Linked DNA regions of Homo sapiens: region 2 is linked to region 1. The links come from fine-mapping of genetic effects on gene expression. A gene starts in region 1. The other region holds a variant in brackets. All regions are shown on one strand. Distances are between the middles of the regions.

Evidence for each region. PIP is the estimated chance that this variant, and not a neighbour inherited with it, causes the effect.
Region 2: its variant is the best candidate, but not a certain one, in a credible set for the expression of SCAMP5 in whole blood (INTERVAL, PIP 0.61).

Annotation. Positions count from the first base shown.
Region 1 is chr15:74,992,073-75,000,399 of GRCh38, reverse strand. It overlaps SCAMP5 (secretory carrier membrane protein 5), which reads right to left and starts at 4,837. Exons shown (of 7, transcript NM_138967.4): 1 at 4,727-4,837.
Region 2 is chr15:75,171,004-75,179,330 of GRCh38, reverse strand. No RefSeq gene overlaps it. Among named protein-coding and RNA genes, the nearest start is that of C15orf39, 27 kb to the left of the region's middle. RefSeq lists enhancers at 1,699-1,798, 1,355-1,914. The variant G/A (reference allele first, on the strand shown) is at 3,763.

The sequences.
Region 1 (8,327 bases):
AAAAAAAATGGCCTTAAAGGTTTTTTAAATATGCCTAGCCCGGTGGCATGTGCCTGTAGTCCCAGCTACTCAGGAGGCTGAGGTGGGAGGATTGTGAGCCCAGGAGTTGGATGCTACAATGAGCTATGATTGCACCTGTGAATAGTCACTGCACTACAGCCTGGACAACATAGTGAGACCTCATCTCTAAACTAATTAGTTAATTAATATGTTGCTTTTTAGCTATCTGTAAAAATATATGCAATTAAAAAAAAAATCTAAGTGCATAAAGTAGAAAAGTCTTCCCAAAATCCACTTTCTCAGATGCCACCCCTTTAACAGTCTGATCTTTAGGTTTGGTGGATTTTGTTGGCTTTCATTTTTAACGTATATAGAATCATATATGACAAAAATGAGATCATTCCACACATCCTGTTTTATAACCTGTTTTTTTCCACTCAACAATATCTCGTGAAAGTTTTTCATGTTAATGAATACAGATCTATCTCAATCTTTTTAATGACTGGTCGACTGGGTCAACAATATCCATGGCCATGAAGCAGTCAGGTGACAAGTTGATATGGCAATCAGGAAGTGTTTTATTTTATTTATTTATTTTTGAGACAGCGTCTCTCTCTGTCAGCAGGCTGGAGTGCAGTGGCGCGATCTCGGCCCACTGCAACCTCCGTCTCCTGGGTTCAAGCAATTCCCCTGCCTCAGCCTCCCGAGTAGCTGGGACTACAGGTGCGCACCACCATGCCTGGCTAACTTTTGTGTTTTTTTATTTTTGTTTTTGTTTGGTTTGTTTTTGTTTTTGTTTTTGTTTTGAGATGGAGTCTCGCTCTGTCGCCCAGGCTGGAGGGCAGTGGTGCGATCTCGGCTCACTGCAAGCTCCGCCTCGGGAAAACATGGGGGTGGTTCCACCTCCCCCACACACACCCCAACCACCCTCTACATGAGCAAAGGGCCTGGGGAGAGTAGTCCAGTTTGGAATACTCCTCCCATGGAATAGAAAGGGGAACTGATGGGAATGAGGAGAGGGGTTTCTATAAGTGATGAAGGGATGGCTGAGACTGGAGACCCTTCCTGGCAGCTCGGGTGACACACAGGCAAAGTGGCAAAGTGGTTGAGGGCATGGAGTTCAGAAAGAACACGGAAGAGGCAATTCATGAGATGGAGAAAATGGAGGTGTCTGAGAACTAGAGGTCTCCTTGAGGTCAGAGCACATAAAGCATTAGTTAGACTGTGGTCAGAGAGAAATACTAGAGTTTAAGATTTCAGAGGTGGCCACATGCCAATGAGGACCACATTCAGATGTAGTTGGTTAAAATGGTGACTGAAAGAGGCACTACCTCCCCTGAGACAATGGGACATGGAGTGGGAGACTGTGGTCCAGCACTAAAGACCTCCAGGAAAACAAGGAAGCAGAGGGAGAGGAGAAAACAACTAGAACATAGGGGCCTCAAAGGAGGAGTCTTCTCCCTAACCGGGCTCCAGCCTAACCCCTGTCCCTGGTCCCAGACAATCTCCCAAAAGTCTGCTTACAGTTCCAGAGAAGTCAGTGCAGCAAAGTATGAATAATTCAGAGCAGAAACCAGAGCAGAGGGCAAAGCTGCCTTGTTTGTATATAAAGGTTAGGGCAGAGAGAATCTGGGGCTTGAGAGGGTGGTAAAAGACTAGGGTCACAGAAATGGAAGGCTCCAGGCTTCTCTGCCCTTGTTTCTGGGAAGCCTTTGAAATGGGGGGTGGGGGGTTGGAGGGGAAGACAGCAATCACTGGCCTCTGCAAACCAAAGTTCTTTTTTTTTTTTTTTTTGAGATGGAGTTTCACTCTGTTGCCCAGGCTGGAGTGCAGTGGCACGATCTCAGCTAACTACAACCTCCTCCACCCAAGTTCGAACTATTCTCCTGCCTCAGCTTCCCTAGTAACTGGGATTACAGGCGTGCACCACCATGCCTGGCTAATTTTTGTATTTTTACTAGAGACACGGTTTCACCATGTTGGCCAGGCTGGTCTCGAACTCCTGACCTCAGGTGATCCACCCGCCTCGGCCTCCCCAAGTGCTGGGATTACAGGCATGAGCCACCGCGCCGGCCAAACCAAAGTTCTTAGACTACAAAACAGAAGAATTAGCAATCTGCTCAACTGATAATCTTTTATAATGGGGATAAGGGCTACATATCCCTCCAAAGATGTAGGCCTAGGGAAACACCTTAATTATCAATAAGATAGCAGTTACTACCTGAATTTTGTTCATGAAACCCTAACTATAATGTATTCCATTCCTTATTGTGAAGCTAGGACAGAAGCCCCCACAGTGGGGAGACTGAGGCCTCTGGCAGCAGACGAGGGTCAAGCCTGGCTTCAGATCAGGCCAGAGTCCTGGGGCTAACTCCAGGGCTCCCTGCTCACCAGTATGGGCCCCTCATCCCTGGCACAGAAATGGTGATTCCTTTTTGCTGCCCAGAGCCAACCTGCTAAGATGGAAGTTTCCCCCTCCTGCTCTACCTCCAATCCCCTCATCCCACTCCTAGCCCCATCTTCTGCCCTGAAATCCCAGAACTATGAATAATCCTCAGAAAACAGCAGTCTCCTGGCCATGCTGTCCCTGTCCTACTGATGACTATTCAGTAGCCTCCTACAGATCTTTGCCTGGCATTCAAGGCTTTGTGCCAGTCAGCTACAAACCTCCCTCCCACCACCTTTGGCTGCTCACAGGTTGACCTGCCTCCTACACTCCCAGCCTCATGCAGGAGATCATCTCTAGCCGCCCCCTCTGCTTCCAGTGCCCCTAAATTGGCAGCACTATCAGCTCCTCTAAGTCCTGCTACCTTCTCACATCCCACCCCTTCTGGGAAGCCTTTCCAAAAATCGCTGCTCTGCATCCCGCTGCATACATTTTGAGTCAGTCATTGGGCACTAAGTGTTCACGTCTTCTCCCATAATCTCCTCACTCCCTCCTGGATGGAGTTTCCAGGAGGGACCCAGCACAGAGCACAGTCAATCCATATACTTGCTTAAGACTTGGACACTTTCCCAATGGGTGGGAGGGAGGCAATTAACGCCCTCCCCCAATCAGATTAAGCCCAAAGCTGCTGTCAAACCTGCTGTATCACACTTCCTCCAGGAAACCTTCCGAAACTCCTGGCTGGCAGCAGGGAAGGAAGTGCAGCCTGTAAAGGAAATGCTGTGGGGGGCAAGGGGTGGGGATAGGGACAGGGAGGCAGAGGGATAGGGGAGGAAAGGAAAAGGAAGAGGGAGAAGAAAGGGGGGATGCTCTAAACTAGAACAAGGAGCATCCTCAAGGGAGGTCACTACTTAGTCCTATTATTTCATCTCTAGAGAAAGGTGCTAGAAAGAGATGCCCAGAGAGGGGAGGTGACTTGGGGAACTTGCTTGGAGGTGGCCACTCAGGAAACGGTTAAAGAAACAGCCACAGAGCCCAAGGTCTCTCTCTAGAACTCCCCTCCTGGGACCCCACTAACTCTCCAAGGGGTTTGCTAAACCTAAGACCCTCTTTCAGGGGCCCATTCACCAGAGACAGCCCCCTCTCAGCTCTAGAGACTTTGCCCTAAGGCTCACCAAGCCCAGAACAAACCTAAGTTAGCAAGACCTGTGTAGCCCCAAACAAAATCTCTCTGCCAATCATGCCCCTGCAAGAACCATCTCCCTCTTTCAGAGCCCTGCTCCGTGAGGCAGAACATGTAGGGGACAGGTTGCAAATTTCTCCAGACTCCACCACCCCATGGGCAGTCACATGGCTGAGCTCCCAGGCTCAGCCCCCAACAGCTGTGCTCGTTTTCATCCCTGTGCCTTTGCCCATACATTCTCCTGGAATGCCCTCTCTTGCCTCTCCTCCCACCCAAATCCCATCACCTCTGGAAGTCTCCTATTCGCTAGCTGTCGCCTCCCTTTCTCTCTGTGTCCCTGGGAAAGTCTGCCAGGCCCTCACTGATCTCCCCATCGGGAAGCTGGGACATTACTTGTTTAAGCCGCCTGTGACAGTGAATGCTCAGTCCGAGTCTCTACTTGGTTCCCCCAACCCACAGACCAGGAGCTCCCCGAGGCGGAGGACAAGGATCGGTTCACAAACACCTCACCTCCATCCTCGTGACCTCCGGCCAGCGTTGAAATGAGCCAAATCCGGCGCCCCCAACTCACCACCCAAAGCCCTGATGGAGCCCGCCTGGTGGCCTGGGCCAGCGCGCCCGTCGCCTCGCAACCCTGGGGCGGCTGAGGTCCGCCATCCAAAGGTCGGCCGCCCGAGGGAGGTGAGGGAAGTCAACCCGGGTCCACCTGCAGGCGCTAGTTGGAAGGAAAGGCCCAAAGGAAGCCACGGGCACCCCCTTCCAGTCGCCCCCATCCCCGGCTGCGCACGCCATCTCCAGAAGGCCGGTTTCCAGGGAACGCCAGGTGGGGCTGGCGGGGGGGATGGAGGGCCCAAAGCTCAGGCTCCAGATCCAGGGTCTGACGTCACCCAAAGGCCCAGTTCCCTCTGCGGGAGCCACAGATGGGAATGGGGGGGCTTGGGGGGCTCGGGGGGCCTGGGTGCGCCCTGAGCGCTCTCCCCCAGCCCCAAACAGTAAAGGTCACCTCCACTCCCACCTCTCCAGCAGTTCGGCCTTCTTCCTGCATCCAAAGGTGAAGTGTAGGAGGAACAAAGCTGCAGCCAGCGACCCCCACACCTCTCGCCCCGCGCCCAGCTTCCCTTCAAAGCTCTCCTCCCAGCCTTCATGCCCAGACTCACCTGCCGCGGCCGTTCGGCTGCCGAAAGGCCGCAGCGCTGCGCTGAGCTGCGCTGCACCCGAGCGATGCGGCGCGGAGCCGGCCGCGAGCCGCTCCGGGGCTGGGGGCGGGGAGCGCGCGCGCGCGCGCGCGCGCCCGAGGCCGTCTCTGCGCGCGCCCGCGCCGCCACTGCCTGCAGCAGTCACTCTCGCGAGACTTCCGCTCTGCTCCTAAGGCTGCTCCTCCTGAGCTCGCGAGAAGGACGACCCGGCCGCCCCGGCATCTTCCAGGAGCTGTCCGAGGTGCTAGTTCCCGGGCCCCGGCCGGATCAGGTGGTTGACGGGCACCTCAGGGACAAGAGCCTGGCGTGTAGGTGGAAGGAAGAGACCCAGAGATGGGAGCCTGGCACCAGCAGCCAGAGCCTCAGCTTCCATATCTGTAAACTGGGGAGAATAACCTCCTATACCTATGCCAGGAGCCTCTGGGACGTGCCAGAAAGGAGTGAGAAAGAGCTGAAAGCAGGAGAGTGTGGTGACTGCGGAAGGTCCTTCAGATCTGCAGGCGCAGGGGGAAAGAGAGAACAGAGGACGGAAGATCGGAGATGATATTCAGAGAGGCAAGGACACAGATCCACGGAAAGACGACATAGGAGGACGAGAAAGAAGAGCTGCAAACAGAGACAGAGACACACGGAGAGAGAGACTGAGATGAGAGCTCAAGGCCTGGAGAGAAAAAAGACATGGAAAGATAAGATAGGTAAGGGAGCATAATGAAGCAAGAAAGAGGCAAGAAATAGAGACAAATTACGCAAAGGAGCAGAGAGAGAGAGAGAGAGAGAGGAGAGGCTTAGAAAAAGAAAGAGACTCAGAAAAAGGAATGAAAGAGACAGTGATATGCAGAGATGAATACCAAGAGAGAGTAGAGGCAAGGGTAAATGTTTAAAAACCCAGAGCTTTGGAGGGTTGAGAGAGACCCACTTGGAGAGATGGGCTGGGAGTGAAGACAGGATTTTATTGTGATTGGTGTTTACATAGTAAACCTCCGTGGGATCTCTACAGGCAGGGCCAGGGCCACTGTCTGTCCTGCCAGCCAATTGCTCCTTCCCCTACACCATACACCCACCCTCCACCCCCCACCCACACCATCCTAGGCCTGGAAGGGGGCCTCAGTGGGTGGGAGACACTGCAGGGATTCTTTGCCTAGAATAAGGGCCCATTGTCTGGCTCCATCCTGCCAGGAGTGGGGCCTCACTCCCACAGCTGGCATGAAAAGGGGGTGGCAGTGAAAAAAGGCAGACAAGAACTAGTGTGGCAGAGGGGAAAAGGAGGGAGAGAGCCTCGGTGCCTGGGAAGGGCTGAGCAGGAAGCATCATCCTGCCACCAGGCCAACCAGGAAGGAAGGGTCCTGGGCTTCGGGGCAGGACAACTGGGTTCTGTGTCAGTCCTGTCCCTGGTTGACCCACATGCTGTCTCTCCCTGCTATAATGCAAGCCAAGGCTGATTTACAGAGCTGTGGAGAGCAGCCAATGAGATGACAACTGGGAACCTGTCGAAGTTATCAAGTGTGGCTGCTACAGGGAAAATGTTGGGAGTCCATGTGGGCCTCAGGAAAGATATAGGGGTTCACATAGGCCTTTAGGAGAGAGATCTGAGGTCCACACTGGGATCCACAAGGAAGATGTCTGGAAACCACATGGAATTTATAGGAGATATCTTGTGGTTCATGTAGGTCCTACAAGGGAAATATTGGGGTTCCCGTCTGATGACCACGGACAATTTTTCTCCACTCAGAAGAATCAGAAGGGTCTCCTATTTGATAAACAACTAACGTAGGAAGAGTGAGCAGGTCCAAAGTCAGAAGCCCACCTTTGTCCCAGTAGATTGTACCTTTCCTATTCAGGTAAATGGAAGGGAACAATGATCACTTAAACAAACGTTTACTTAATAGGCATTTGCTGGTTACCTACCATGAGAAGAAGCATACAGCAGTGGTTAAGAATATCAACCTAGAAGGCAGACCTTGCCCCTTCCCTGCAGTGTGAATTTGAGAAGGTACTAATCCTCACTGAACCTTAGTTTTCCACATATGTAAAATAAGGATGGTGATAATGGGACCCGTGTCTTAGGGTTCCTGCAAGGATGAAATGAATTAATACATGCAGACACATGTAACATATGGGACTGCCTGGTACACAGTAAGTATTTAATGATCTGTAAATAGATGGATAAAACAATTTTTAAAAATTAAAAATAAAGTATTTAAGCCAGGCACGGTGGGTCACGCCTATAATCCCAGCACTTTGGGAGGCCAAGGCAGGCGAATCACTTGAGGTCAGGAGTTCGAGACCAGCCTGGCCAACATGGTGAAACTTCATCTCTGCTAAAAATACAGAAATAGCCAGCCATGGTGGTGTGCACCTGTAATCCCAGCTACTCAGGAGGCTGAGGCACAAGAATCCCTTGAACCCAGGAGGTGGAGGTTGCAGTGAGCCTAGATGACGCCACTGCACTCCAGCCTAGGCGACAGACCAAGACTTCCTCTCAAAAAAATAAATAAATAAAGTATTTAAAGGTGCTAGCTCAAACTGCGTGGCAGGCACTGGAGACATGTCTTTGTTGTAGTGGAGGGCAGGGGTGAGAGAGCCTGTGCCAAACCATGCAGTAACACATTTCAAGCTTCTTTGCAGATGTGGAGAATGTCACATCTGCTCATATGCCATTACTCAAAGCAAGTCACATGGGTAAGCCCAAAATTAATTCATGGGGGTCAGGGAGGTATGCTACCCATACAGGATGCCAGATAAGTCACATGACAAATGGTGGGGACATTTAATCCCATTGCAGAGGGAGCAAGTAACTGGGAACAGGAACCCAATCAATCAATGTCCCACAGGGCCAGCTCCAGGCTGCTTATCTTTCCCTGCCTAGCTATGCCTGAATGAGGCATGTCCATCCAAGAGTCTCTGGGAGAATATTTATGTTACAGGCCAGTAAACGAATAAAAATAGAAGTATTTACTGAACTTTTAATGTCTGAGTGAAATGCTAAACTGCATGACCATCCTAAGAAATAAGTGCTATTGGGCCGGGCGCAGTGGCTCACACCTCTAATCCCAGCACTTTGGGAGGCCAAGGCGGGTGAATCACAAGGTCAAGAGATCGAGACCATCCTGGCTAATACGGTGAAACCCGGTCTCTACTGAAAATACAAAAAATTAGCCGAGCATGAGAGCGTGTGCCTGTAGTCCCAGCTGCTGGGAGGCTGAGGCAGGAGAATGGCATGAACCCAGGAGGCGGAGCTTGCAGTGAGCCGAGATCCCGCCACTGCACTCCAGCCTGGGCGACAGAGCGAGACTCGGTCTCAAAAAAAAAAAAAAAGAAAGAAAGAAAGAAGTGATACTATCCATATTCTATAGATGAGCCAAGTGAAATTCAGAGAGGTAAAGTGATCTGCCCAAGGAAATTGGATGGATAGATCTAAGAAATAAAAGAACCACTATCTTTAGGCTGGGTATCCCCAGAGGCAGACACTGAGATAAGGATGTTCATATAAATGGTCCATTTGAGAGATGATTCCGTGGAGCACTAGTAGGAGAGAGGGGGAGTGAAACAAACAAATGAAGAA
Region 2 (8,327 bases), 180 kb before region 1:
TCCAGACCAGTGGCTCAGGCTCCGTGGTAGATTGAGTTGTTGATGTTGAGCAGAAATCTCCCTCCCGCCTAAGTGGGCAACCCAACATCTTTCCCAAAGCACTGGCACAAACCCGCCGTGAGGGTGGCTGGCAGGAACTATTGTTGAATTTTACCTAGAGGGTCCGTGTCCAGCAGCAAGTGGGGACAGGAGAATGCTAGGATACAAGGTCGTCCTTGCTGTGCCTTGGCCCAGCGAGTGGTCTCCATGTCCCCTCAGAGGGAGGGTGCATTCTGGCACGTGGCTGAGCGGGTACCCACCAAAACCCTAACGTAGAAAGCCCGGCTCCAGTCACAGCCTGCCTGGGACTGGCCCTGGCCCTGGCCCTGGCTGCCGCTCTCCTTCCCCCAGCTGAATCCTAATAGGAGGCACAGAATCCTAATACAGCCTCCAGGTTTCACAGATGGGGAAACCGAGGCGCGGTTCCCGCGCGTCCACGTTCAGCCCATGCCCGGGCTGAACCCAATTGCAACAAAGTCCCAGGGGCCTCCGGAGAAAACGTGGGAGCCTTCCCGCCCTGGCGGGCCCTTGCCAGCTCTCTGCTTCTCGGACACAGGCGGCGGGCGGGCGCGGGCCTCAGGGACCCGGCCGCTGGGGCGGGAGTCTCCAGGGAACCGTGATGTAACCCAGCGCCCCGGCTTGCAGGAGCGGCCCCCAGGCGCCGCCCGTGGCTTGTTTACTCGACTAGGGGCGCGGGGTGGAGTCGCGGCCACCGGCCCCGCCCCACCCCCCACAGTGCCCGCCCCTGCACCTCCCCCCAACCCCTCCACCCCAACGGCTGGACGGAGCCCCAGGGGCTGTTGGAGGCTTGCGGGTGTTGGTCCTGTTTCTGCCTTAGATGTTCCAAGACCTGGCGCAGTGGCCGAGCCACACGGGTGACTCTGAAAGGGCCTGAGTCCCCCACGAGCTCTCTCAGTCACGGCCCCCAAAGTAGCTCAAAAGAACATTCCAACGAAGTAAAATCCCGGAGCTTGCTATGCCTACGCAGCCTCAGGACAAGGGCCCTCCTATCCGGTCCCCCAGTCGCCGCATCTTCCCGGCCTGTCTCCTGCTCCTGTCTCCTGTTCTGTGATAGCCGGCACCGTGGGGAGCCCTTTTTTGGACTCCCCAAAAGTCTGCCTCAGGGGACAAAAACAGCATTTCCCAGGGGCTCTACTACTCCTGGCACAGAGAAAGAGAGTTTGCTCTTGGCTAGGCAAAGTTAACACCCTGAAGGGCTGAAGGGCAGAACTGCTTAGGGGTTGGGGCTCCTCACTTAGGGCAGCGATTCCCAGTCCTGGGCTCTTTCCAGCCCCAAGCCAGGGCCTGGCTCACTGGGGCCAGTGGGGAACAGCAGGGCTCCCTGCACACACAGCACCCTCTCGAACTGGGCTCTCCAGCCAGACACAGGCCTCCCACCCCTAGGGGAGAGCAAGAACAAGGCAGTGTGTGGCCAGATGGTAATGGATGGGAACAGATCTAGAGGGTGCAATGCTGATGCCAGCAAAAACCCCAACAGCTGTGACCTGTGCCCACTGCCAGGGTTTTCTCATCTAGACTCTCCATTCCCTGGTGAGGCAGGCAGGCTGCCTACAGATGAGGGAGCTGAGGCTCAGAGAGAGCAGGGGAGCCTGAGGTCACCCTAGGAAGTTGGCGACAGCTGCAACTAGGACCTAAACCCGTGTGCTAGTCTCTCATGCGCTTTTTTTTTTTTAAATAGACAGTACAATATGAACATACTTCATGCAATCTTGAGAGCCCAAGAGCCCTGTAACTGGGAGCAGTCCAGGAGGGCTTCCTGGATAAGAGGCCAGGCCTCAGCTAGATGAGGGAGGAGGGGCACGATTTGGAGAGAGAGGTGTGAGGTGAGAAGGCTTCTCTGAGGTGGGAAATAGGAAGAAAGGGGATGGGCTGGGTGGGATAGCACTCACCTGTAATCCCAGCACTTTGGGAGGCTGGGGAAGGGGATTGTTTCAGACCAGTTTGGGCAATATAGTGAGACCACCATCTCTACCAAAAATTAAAAATGTGGCACATGCCTGTGGTCCCAGCTACCTGAGAGGCTGACATGGGAGGATTGCTTGGGCCCTGGAGGTCAAGGCTGTAATGAGCCATGATCGTGCCACTGCACTCCTGTCTGGGTGACAGAGTGAGACCTTGTCTCAAAAAAAAGAAGAAAGGGGAGGTTAACCTGGGAAGAGAACAGCCCGGGAGCTGCAGGAAGTAAGGGTGCAAAAGATCTCACCAAAGAAGAGGGTCTGGGGGTCAGTCAGGGAGGAGGCCAGCCAGGGTCAAGAGAAGTTCCTGGGGAGGGGGTGTGGTGGGCAGATGCAGGATTGGAGACTACTGGTATTGGGGGCAGCATTTCCAGTCCAGCCTTCCACTGCAGACTCTAGCATTTCCCAGCCCTCTGGCTTTGGGTATGTTATCTTCCCTCTGTGGGCCTCAGTTTCCTCATTTATAAGATGGAGATCAGCTCCCCACGCTGCCCATGGCTGAGAAGGTGCTTTGTGACTGGCTTTACATACTTGAGGGTGTGAGGGACTCATATACCAATGTGACGGATAGGCTGGAGTCAGGGGAGACCTCTCCATGGGGCTTCTCCCTGCCATGTATTCCCTGCCCTTACAGAGAGAGGCCTCATACACTTGTTCCCTCCAACTCTGCCGGCATGTTGGGGAGGCCCCTAGGCTTAGTAAATATTTGTGTCTCTGCTCTAGTTGGTGGCTGCTGGAACATTCTGTCCTGCTTCTCATTCATCTAGGCTTCTGCCTCAGGCTGTGAAGTTACTGCAAGAGATCAAGAGCCCAGGGTGGGAACTTCTAGGTCCTTCGCCAGCCCCCCTCCTGCCTACTCCTGAGCCCCAGTTTATTCCTGGAGTTCAGAACCCTGTGCGAGGCCCTGTGCACTTTGGGAGGCTAAGGCAGGTGGATCACCTGAGGTCAGGAGTTCGAGACCAGCCTGGCCAACGTGGTGAAACCCCATCTCTACTAAAAATACAAAAATTAGCCAGGCGTGGTGGCATGTGCCTATAGTCATAGTCCCAGCTACTTGGGAGGGCAAGGCAGGAGAATTGCTTGAACCTGGGAGGTGGAGGTTGCCAGTGAGCCGAGATTGTGCCATTGCACTCCAGCCTGGGCAACAGAGTGAGACTCCGTTTCAAAAAAAAAAAAAAAGAAAGAAAGAAAAAAAAAGAAAAAAAAAGAAAGAAAGGAAAGGAAGAGAGAGAGAGAGACATGTGACTCTAAAGAACCTCTCTGGGCATGGTGGCTCATGCCTGTAATCCCAGCACTTTGGGAGCCCAAGATAGGAGGATTGCTTAAGCCCAGGAGTTTGAGAACAACCTGGGCAACATAGTGAGACCCTATCTCTAGTTTTAAAAAGAACACCTCTCCTTTTGCTGTGAGAAGAGCTAGGACATTGGGTCCGAATGTTAGCTCAGTAGCTGGCCTGATGTGTGGTTTTGGTTGAGTCCCACTACTTTTCTGAGCTTATTTCCTCATTCCTGAAAAGGTGGTGAAATGGTTTGGACCAGTGCCTGGCACTTACTAAGCTGTTTTCTTCCTTAGCCTTCCTTCCATGCCTCTGCACTGTCTTCCTAGAAGTTTGGGCCTGCCCTATTTAACCAATTAAATTAACAAGGATAAGAAGTTTCCGACTTTTATTGGGTACTCTATACAGTGCTATGCTGGTAAATGTTAAAAACCAGCTCTACATACATTTTTTTAAAGTTCTAGGCCAGGC[G/A]CAGTGGCTCATGCCTATAATCCCAGCATTCTGGGAGGCCGAGGCAGGTGGATCACCTGAGGTCAGGAGTTCAAGACTAGTCTGATCAATATGGTGAAACCCCATCTCTACTAAAAATACAAAAATTAGCTGGGTGTTCAAGGTGGCACGCACCTGTAGTCCTAGCTACTCAAAAGGCTGAGACAGGAGAATCACTTGAATCTGAGAGGCAGAGGTTGCAGTGAGCTGAGATCACACCACCGCACTCCAGCCTGGGCAATAGAGTGAGACTACATCTAAAATAAAATAAAATAAAATAAAAGTTCTGTTTTGCAGTGTTTGCCCTATTTCCGTGCTGTTAATACTCACCATGGCCATTTCTTTTTTTCTTTTTTTCTGAGACAAGTTTCGCTCTTGTTGCCTAGGCCGGAGTGCAATGGCAAGATCTTGGCTTACTCCAACCTCAACCTCCTGGGTTCAAGCTATTCTCCTGCCTCAGCCTGCTGAGTAGCTGGGACTACAAGCGTCCACCACCACACCCAGCTAATTTTCGTATTTTAGTAGAGACGGGTTCGCCACATTGGCCAGGCTGGTCTCGAACTCCTGACATCAGATGATCCACCAGCCTCAGCCTCCCAAAGTGCTGGAATTATAGACGTGAGCTACCGCGCCCGGCCCACCGTGGCCATTTCAAAGCTACCAACATGACATCACAGAAAGTGAACTGTGACCTAGTGAGAGCTGGCAGGCCACAACACAGCACTGCCTGTGGGATTTGCTATATAATTTGCAAGGCCCAATACAAAATGAAATTGCAGGTTCCCTGTTCAAAATGCATGGGGGAATGTCTTCCCTTTTTTCCATGATGCCTCTCACAACCTGTCATGGTGTTGCGTTTTTTGGTAATTTACACTTAATGTTCTTACTCCCTCCAGCTCGGGACACGCACAGGGCAAGAGCGGACCTTCACAGATCGGGGAGGTGGCACATGTGGAACCTAGTAACTACCAGGCTCCCCGTTCCAGCAGCCACCAGACAGACTTATTGGGAAGTAGAGGCAGGCATCTTCCCTTCCTAAAGGCCCACAGTCCCAACTATGTCCCAACCTCGTAGCCAGGAGGCACTAGGGACTGGGATAGGAGTGGAGAGAGGCTCACCCTCCCTAAGCCACCCACTGAACATGGCATATTGCTGCCAGCCTGGGACAGGACGGCCACCACCTGTCCGCTCTGACACTGTGGGGTGCATGTACTTGGCCCTGGCGCACCCACCCCCACCCAGGCCCTCAAGGGAGCAAAGGGTGGCAGTGTTGCAGGGCAGGGGTGACAAGGGGGCTGGGTGGCACTGGGGCACCAGAGGTTGAGGGAGTGGATAGCCAAGAACTCATTCCAGGGAAGCATGGAGGTGGCAGGAGGCATGACCATGCTTCAGGCCAAGATTCCAAGCCCTCAGCACGTGCTACATGACCCCATTGGACTTCACTTACAAAAGACAAATTTGGCTGGGCATGATGGCTTACACTTGTAATCCCAGCACTCTGGGAGGCCGAGACAGGTGGATCACCTGAGGTCAGGAGTTCAAGACCAGCCTGGCCAAGATGGTGAAACCCCGTTTCTACTGAAAATACAAAAATTAGCCGGGCATGGTGGCACGTGCCTGTAATCCCAGCTCCAGCTACTCAGAGGCTGAGGCAGGATAATCATTTGAACCCAGGAGGCAGAGGTTGCAGTGAGCCAAGATTGCGCCACTGCACTCCAGCCTGGGTGACAGAGCAAGACTCTGTCTCAAAAAAAAAAAAAAAAAAAAGACAAATTCAAAGTTAAATTACGAAGAATTTCAAAGTACTGCTTGGTCCTAGTGCATTCAACCAAGCTTGGTTGGGCCCTTCCAAGTGCAGGGCTCTGTCTGTGGGCTGCACTGAAGGGGGCCTTACTATATGTGTTATCCAAGTGAGATAAGAATGGGTGGGCAGGTTGGCTGGGCATGGTGGCACATGCTTGTAATCCCAGCACTTTGGGAGGCCGAGGCGGGTGAATCAGCTGAGGTCAGGAGATCGAGACCAGCCTGATTAACATGGTGAAACCCTGTCTCTACTAAAAATACAAAAATTAGCCAGGCGTGATGGCATGCACCTATAATTCCAGCTACTCAGGAGGCTAAGGCAGGAGAATTGCTTGAACCCGGGAGGCGGAGGTTGCAGTGAGCCGAGATTGCACCACGGCACTCCAGCCTGGGTGACAGAGTGAGACTCCATCTCAAAAAAAAAAAAAAAAAGAGTGGCCCAGCAGGATCATTCCTTAGGAACTTTAGTCTTTTAGTCCCCACATTAGAGAAACCTGGGTGCCTTGAGGGAAGTAAAGGCCAGGTGACTCACCTCCCTCCTCAGAAATCTCCCCTACTTTGGGGAAGCATGCACGCAACTTGGCAAAAACTTGTCAAACAAAAAAATACAGCCTTTGTTACAGAAATTTATCATCCACCATCTGCACCATTGCTTCCATTTTTATATCTGCATGGTGCCGCTTTTCTCTTTTTGAGAAATACTTTCCAAAAATTGACCTTTTGTTTCTAAACAGGTGAAAGATAACATTTTGAAACACTCAATTCACTGCCCATCTGTGCAATGTATAATTGGTTGCATTCGTTGGTCTAGAGAATACCCACAACTGTAAAAGTTTTCTCCATACTGATATTTGTCCTGGGGATTGAAGCCAAATTATTGACCTAGTTTTAGTAAATCTAGAACAACAGCTTTTTGGCTTAAGAAATATTTCCATGTATCAAGAATAATCATTCCCTTGACATGAATGAGTGATGGCCCAGGCATCAACTTCCTGACAAAGGGAATTTGAAAGGGGCGCTTCTCAAACCACGCTGGCCCCAGTCCAGGAAGGTATAGTTTCCATTTCTCAGGAGTGGCCAGATGCTCTGGGCCAGCTGCTGGAAGGGGTGTCTCACCAGGGAAGAGGGCTGCAAATGTGGGCAGAGGACGAGACGCCCCCACAGCCTGTTGATGCAAGCAGCCCCACTCTGCATACCCCCAGCTCTGTCCAGATGGTAATCCCGCTGCTGGGAGCCCAGGCCCAGCCCATGGCTCTCAGGACTGTGTTGCATTGTGAAAGAAGGGCAGGAGCCTCACTGGGGCAGGTCAGCACTCACAGAAACATACAGACATACAGGCAGGAAGCAGCCGGGGAACCTTGTCCTGAAGTGTGTGCAGGTGCAGTGGACACAAACCACCTCCATGGCATGTTGATAAAAGCCACATGGTGAAGGAATAGTGGGCCTTCTCCAGCATGTTCTTCTATAGGTTTCCCCACAGAAATTCAAACCATAGGCTGGGCGCCATGGCGCATGCCTGTAATCCCAGCACTTTGGGAGGCTAAAGCTGGAAAGATTGTTTGAGCCCAGGAGTTGAAGACCAGCCTAAGCAACATAGTGAGAGCCCCCCTCTCTACAAACATTTTTTTTTTTTAATTAGCCGGCCATGGTGGCACATGCCTGTAGTCCTAGCTACTGGGGAGGCTAAGGCTGGGGGATCACTTGAACCTGAGAGGTCAAAGTTGCAGTGAGCCGTGGCCATGCCACTGTACTCCAGCCTGGGCAACAGAGCGAGACCCTGTCTCAAAAAAAAAGAAAAAAATAAGAGAGAAACTCAAACCATAGGCTGTTTGAGTCTAAACCTGGCCCTGTGTACTCCTTAGTGATTTTGGGCAAATCCCAGGGCGTATCTGAGCCTCACTTTCTCCATGTGTAAAATGGGAACATGATGCATATCTTCAGGATTGAGTTGAGTATTAAACAAGTTGCCTGTGTTTATGTTCATGTGTAGATGTTGGACACAGAGCTGGCGCTCAATACCACAGGATGGAAACAGGGTGGCTATTATTATCATTAGCAATCAGATAGTAGAGAGAAGGTCTGACTCACTTCTGTGTGCTTTTTCTGGTACACAGGATGTGGTACTGGGAAATGTGGATGGAACTCTTGGGCCTTGGCGGGCTGTGTTGAGAGAGTGGTTTGTGGCGACATGGTAGGGAAAAGTAGGTGACTGTGCTGGGCCTTTGCTGGCCTTCTTCCCCAGGAAACAGAACTGTGGGGGGCAGGGACGGTGGCGATGTGGAGGAAGCTCATCCTTAGCCAGCCCCCTCATTTCATAGATGGAGAAACTGTGTGTCAACCCATGATGAACTCATTACACCAACCTCTACTGGCCTCAGAGTAATTTGTGGAACTCCAAAATTTTGGAGCCCCAAAAACTGGAGATGCAAACCCTGGGTGCCTGTTCAGATTCCCCCAGCAATCTGCTTCATTTCTCTTGATTGGCATAAGACCAGTGCCAGGTCACTCCTCCGTTTTTAGAACTGGATAACATTCCACATCAAAAAAGGTATGAAACTGGCTACTGAGGAGTTCGGTGATGAAACACAAAAGTATGGATGAGTTAGCTCCCCGCACCTGCCAGGTGAAACCTGACCTATGAGAAACAGGAGATGGGAAGGAACTGGGAAGGTAAGTTCTCCCTCCTTTTTCTCTCCTTGGACTGCTCCAAGGTGCAGTTCCCTGCATCCCTCTGGACAAGTCCC